Linked DNA regions of Homo sapiens: region 2 is linked to region 1. A link means that fine-mapping ties the variant in region 1 to the expression of a gene that starts in the linked region. Tissue or cell type: breast. Region 1 holds a variant in brackets; the other region holds the start of a gene. All regions are shown on one strand. Distances are from middle to middle.

What was found. PIP is the estimated chance that this variant, and not a neighbour inherited with it, causes the effect.
Region 2: ABCA6 starts here. The variant in region 1 is the best candidate, but not a certain one, in a credible set for the expression of ABCA6 in breast (GTEx, PIP 0.89).

Annotation. Positions count from the first base shown.
Region 1 is chr17:68,365,558-68,368,330 of GRCh38, forward strand. The region is part of intron 6 of ARSG (arylsulfatase G); the gene reads left to right. Among named protein-coding and RNA genes, the nearest start is that of MIR635, 58 kb to the right of the region's middle. The variant C/T (reference allele first, on the strand shown) is at 1,644.
Region 2 is chr17:69,140,352-69,143,124 of GRCh38, forward strand. It overlaps ABCA6 (ATP binding cassette subfamily A member 6), which reads right to left and starts at 1,544. Exons shown (of 39, transcript NM_080284.3): 1 at 1,394-1,544; 2 at 257-397. The coding sequence starts at 352. RefSeq lists a silencer at 1,437-1,731.

The sequences.
Region 1 (2,773 bases):
GGCTCAGGGTGCTAATGTGACTTTGATAATGGGTGAGAGTTTGGAAGATGATGATGGATGATGAAGGGTGGACAGCAGGACCACCCCTCGCCCATACACATGGTGAGCTGATTTCTAAGAAAACAGCTGCAGTCTGTAGCATTTGCCAATTCCTGAGGTGTAAATACTCAATCTCACCATGGCTGATTTCCAGCTATGGAGATGTCACCGAATATGGCATTGAAAAATGATGGGCAGTAGCAAGCCATTGTGTGTTATTTCCACCACACAGATACAATAGATGTAAATAACCCCATGAGCCTACATCATAGCAGAATGTAGTAGTTGGGAAGTGATAAATGGTGAGAATGTACTACTTTCAAAAAATATTATTGATTTATTTAATTTATTTTTTTTTTGAGACAGAGTCTCGCTCTGTCGCCCAGGCTGGAGTGCAGTGCACAATCTTGGCTCACTGCAACCTCTGCCTCCTGGTTTCAAGTGGTTCTCCCTGCCTCAGCCTCCCGAGTAGCTGGGATTACAGGCACCTGCCACCACGCCTGGCTAATTTTTGTATTTGTTAGTAGAGGCAGGGTTTTGCCATCTTGGCCCAGCTGGTCTCAAACTCCTGACCTCAAATGATCCGCCTGCCTCGGCCTCCCAAAGTGCTGGGATTACAGGTGTGAGCCACTACGCCTGGCAAAAAAATAAAATAAAATAAAATTTATTTAATTGTGGACTTTTATAATTGAATTTTTAGCAATGGCCATGTTTAACAACTGGTTTGCAAAATACTTGAAATTTGAGCCAGATCTAGGCACCACTGCAATATGGAATCTACCTGAAAATTAAAAAAAGCCACCCCCACTGGCCAGGCACTGCCCTGTGCAGGGTAACCAGCCAGTAGATTGTAAGCTGGAAATAAGGACCCATTCACTCAGCAGGATGTCCTGATGCAGGCCACAACCTGCACAACTGTACATGACCATCCCTGGGAGAGTTGGCATCAGGCACTGCAAATCATTGCTGTACGAAAAAACTAGGCAAGAATGGAGATGTTTTCTATCTGCACTGTCCAAGCTGCTAGCCTCTAGCCACCTGCTGCTGCTGAGCATTTGAAATGTGGCTAGGAATTTATGTATGTGTGTGTGTGTGTGTGTGTGTGTGTGTATTTTATTGTGGGTATGTATATATACAGATATATATAATCATAAAATGTTACCATCTTAACCATTTTAAATGTAAAGTTCTGTCGCATTAAACATTCACTTTGTTTTGCAACAATTACCACTATCCATCTTCAGAACTGTTTCATTTTTTCTAACTGAAACTGTACCCATGAAACATAAACTGCCCAGTTTTTCTTCCCCGCAGTGCCCCGCCACTCACCATCCTACCTTCTCTCTATGAATTTGACTATTATGGGTACCTCACACAAGTGGAATCATACAATTATTTGTTTCTTGGTGACTGGATTATTTCACTTAGCATAATATTTTCCGGGTCCACCCATGTGCTAGCGTGTGGGCCATGGAACTTTTAATATGATTTAATTTTCATTAATTTAAATCTAAATAGGTACATGTGACTTGTGGCTGCTGCCCTGAACAACACAACTCTAGCAATGTTGCAGAGAAAGTGTGGATTAAAATGGGGAAGGCAGA[C/T]GCCCCTGTCTTGGGACTTGTGTCCAGGGTTTTATGCATAGCAAAGAGAACTGAGTGCAAGCACAGTCCCAGGCGGCAGACCCTGGGAGCCAGGGTGCAGGGGGGATTTGAGGGCACAGTTGGCTATAGAGCAAGGCTGTAAGGTGGTGTAAACCAGGGTGAGCTAAGGAGAACCCTGGGGCCAACTGAATCTCTGCGTGAACTAGTATGAAAGGGCCATGCATCTACCCCCACCAGAATGTTGTTGACTCTGTACTCTCCCAATACCCTTGTTTGGTGTCCTCTGAAAGACCCCCCATGGATGGATCTGTGGGAGAGGGGCCCCCTGAAGGTCCCTGCCACCGTTGTGATTCTGCAGCTGCTCTTGGCTGGGAGTAGGACTGGGACCTTTGCTTGGAAGCCACGCCAGCTCCCTCCAAGCCTTTCATTCTGCACTTTCCAGGGAAATCAGGATGAGTACAGAGGCAGCCGAACAACAAGGCCTCTGACAGATCCCTGATCTAGATGTTACCTGGTGGTCATATGTGTCCTTGAAATTCCTGTGATCAACTTGAGACAACCATTTATCTCTTAGAAAGGAACAAGGCTGGCCAGGCACAGTGGCTCACGCCTGTAATCCCAGCACTTTGGGAGGCCGAGGAGGGCAGCTCACCCGAGGTCAGGAGTTTGAGGCCAACCTAGCCAACGTAGCAAAACCCCATCTCTACTAAAAATACAAAATTAGACGGGCATGGGGGTGGGCACCTGTAATTCCAGCTACTCAGGAGGCTGAGGCGGGAGTATCGCTTGAACCCAGGAGGCGGAAGTTGCAGTGTGACAATATCGCGCCACTGCACTCCAGCCTGGGCGACAAGAGTGCGACTCTGTCTCCAAAAAAAAGAAAGAAAGGAATGAGAGGCTGAGAATGGACAGGATAGTCTGGATGCTGCAAAATAAAATTTAAAGGTGTGTGTGTGTGCCTTAGACTTTACAGTGTGGCAGTTAAGAGCAAGATTCGGACATGTAACTAATTGCATATCCTGGGCAAGTCCTTTAATCTCTAAGCTTCTGATTCTTCATCTGAAAAACGGGGCTATGATGAGGACGAACCTAGACAATGTGATTCCCATATAATAAGCTCTCAGTAAATG
Region 2 (2,773 bases), 770 kb after region 1:
GGTAGTAGCTCTAGCAGTTGCTGTAATTTACCATATAATTAAATGTTCACTTAATCTCTTTTTATATGAGGAATTCTTTTAGTCTTTAATAATTTTATGTTATTCTTCAGTCTCTCAATTCAACAAATACAACTAGAGAGAACTGGTAAAATCAATAAATCCCATCTACTAATTAAAAGAGAACATAAGAGAATCAGTAGGTAATGAAACACTGTAAGAGTGCTAACCGTGGAAAGAGACAAATTTTTAAACATACCAATAAGCTCTCTCTTTTCATCCTCCATTTCTTAAGAAAATTCTTGCACAGAAGTGCTTTGGTTTGCTGATACACGCTTTTCTGTTTCATATTCATTTAGCCTATTCGCTGAAGGAGAAAGTAATCATGGTGGAACACAACCTAGAAAAAAATAAGTGTAATAAGAAAAACCTTGATCATAGTGTTGAGGAAAATATTTACTACCTTTAAAAAGTGTAAACATGAATTTAAAATATTATTTCAATAATTTATGACTGTAAAATTTCACCTCAAATATTTCACCTTAAGCTTTTTAGGGGAGTGGGTGATGGTGGGAAGGCAGAGTGATTATTATCACAATTTTGCAATAACTTGGAGTACTGAAATGGAAAAGCTGTAATTCAACTTCAGAACCTATAATTTCACATTTTTGGCCTTGTATGAGAGAACTTTAAGTACATGAATAGAGTGATTAAATTAATTTCATCCTGTTAATAGCCATTTCTTGTTCTTTACATTGAAACAGAAATCTCAGAGCTAATCAAATTAACATCAAAAGTCTGATTACTTAAATTTGTCTGAATAATAAATTACATCCACTAGATACAACCTCAATAAAGTGTTTTCTTGTAATTTTACCTTCAGATTGAATCAACTTTTATGAAAAGAGATAGGTTGTAAATCATAATCCAGGCTCAAACTACTTGAAACTTGATTCTGAGATACAGGAAGAATAAAGCAATTTCTCTCAATTTTCTGAATTCAGAAGTCCCTGAATAACTAATGAAACTACAAAATTAGCTTTAAAAGAAGCAAAAATAAATCACACGGGAAAGTAATTTTGCCCAAAGATTTGCAAATCAAGAAACACAATTTTTTTCGTTTCTGTAACCTCAAAATGAAATTCTTTCATATTTTTACATCAAAATATTCAGATAATTCTCCCTCAGCTAGCACAGAAGCAAATTTTTTCCATTTTTCTATGTCTTACTGTTACAATCTACACAATAAAAAGTGGTTGGGAAAAAGCAGAAAAATTTAGTCTTAGGTCTTTAACATAAAACACATAAGAATTGGGAAACATCTGAAAAATAGATTGATTTTAGCAGTGTCCACCCACATATTTGGCACAGCACAACAAAATAGAGCTTTACTTACTGTCAGGAAAATAATAAAAAGCACTCTAGAAACACTGTCAAAACCAGTTCTCTGTTTGTCTAGGTAACGATTACAACTTCTTTATTGCTGCTTCTTCATTTTTTCTTTAAATGGGTGCCTACTCCAGCAGCTCTTACACAGCCTGGTTTCTGAAAAGGGGTGTAGCCAGACCAAGCTGTACATGATGAACTTGTTTTGTTTTCTGTGTCTCTTTCTCCCTAAGCCAATTATTCTGCAAGGAAATGACTGTTCCGTGGTTGGTTGGGAATAAAATAAACTCTGTGTTTGTTCACTTAGCCTTTCAACTACAGGGATAAGGGGGAAAACGGTAAACAAGGAAAATGGAACTAGTTCTTCAGAAATGATGAGACCAAGATGGAGGCAGGAACAAGAAAGAGTAAAAACAATAACTAACCAAACAAAGCAGTTAAATTTGTATAAGAAATCTGTATCTATTTTCTTTTCACTACTGATGAATAAACACAACTGCCAGTTAGTTGTATATTTAACTAATTCAGACTAAGTTAGCAGAGTATTCTGGAGCTGATTTTTTTTCCTAATAAAGCTAAGCAATCCATAGTACGCCTTGGAGAAACTCCTAGGACAGACAAATGAAGAATTTTTAACAAATTTGTTGCTCCCACCCTCTTCACAGTGGATACAGGATTTCATAATACTTATGAACAAAATAAGCCAGTGGTTTGCCCAGGTCTACAAAACATATAAAAAGATTCAGATAAATTTTTGTGCACGAAGACTACAACAAACTGAAACATGTTTAATTCATATAGCATAGTCTGTCTCTCTCTGCTCTGTAAAGAGTTGCAAACTTTTCTTGACCTGCCACAGTGAATGGCAAAACAGGAAATCAAAGTCCATGAATTGGGAAATCTCAAATATTTGACACGGCTCCCAATCCACAGATGTTAATAATCATAAAGCTGAGAAACTTTCTGGAGCAAAGCAGATAATTTAAACAACAATGACAACTACAGCCATGATACTATTATGTGTATATGTGTGTGCCTGTGTGTATATATATAAAATGTATATATATATAATGTATACATATGTGTATATATATAATGTGTGTGTGTGTGTGTGTGTGTGTATATATATATATATAAAATTTCTCTCCTTGGCAATTACTTCTGTTTTTAAAAATAGTCAACAGTGAAATGCCACTTTTTTTACATTGAAAATTGGCACAAACACCGTTAATAAAGGTGTTCTAAAGTTCTCATGGGGTGTGGGAAGGGAGGTCATAAACACTTAACATTTTGTAATAGTAATATAACAAAACTCAAAGTTACTTTTAAACCACCTGGAATACAGTTAAGGCTTTTATGAATTTTTTTGTTGTTATCATTGTTTTAGACC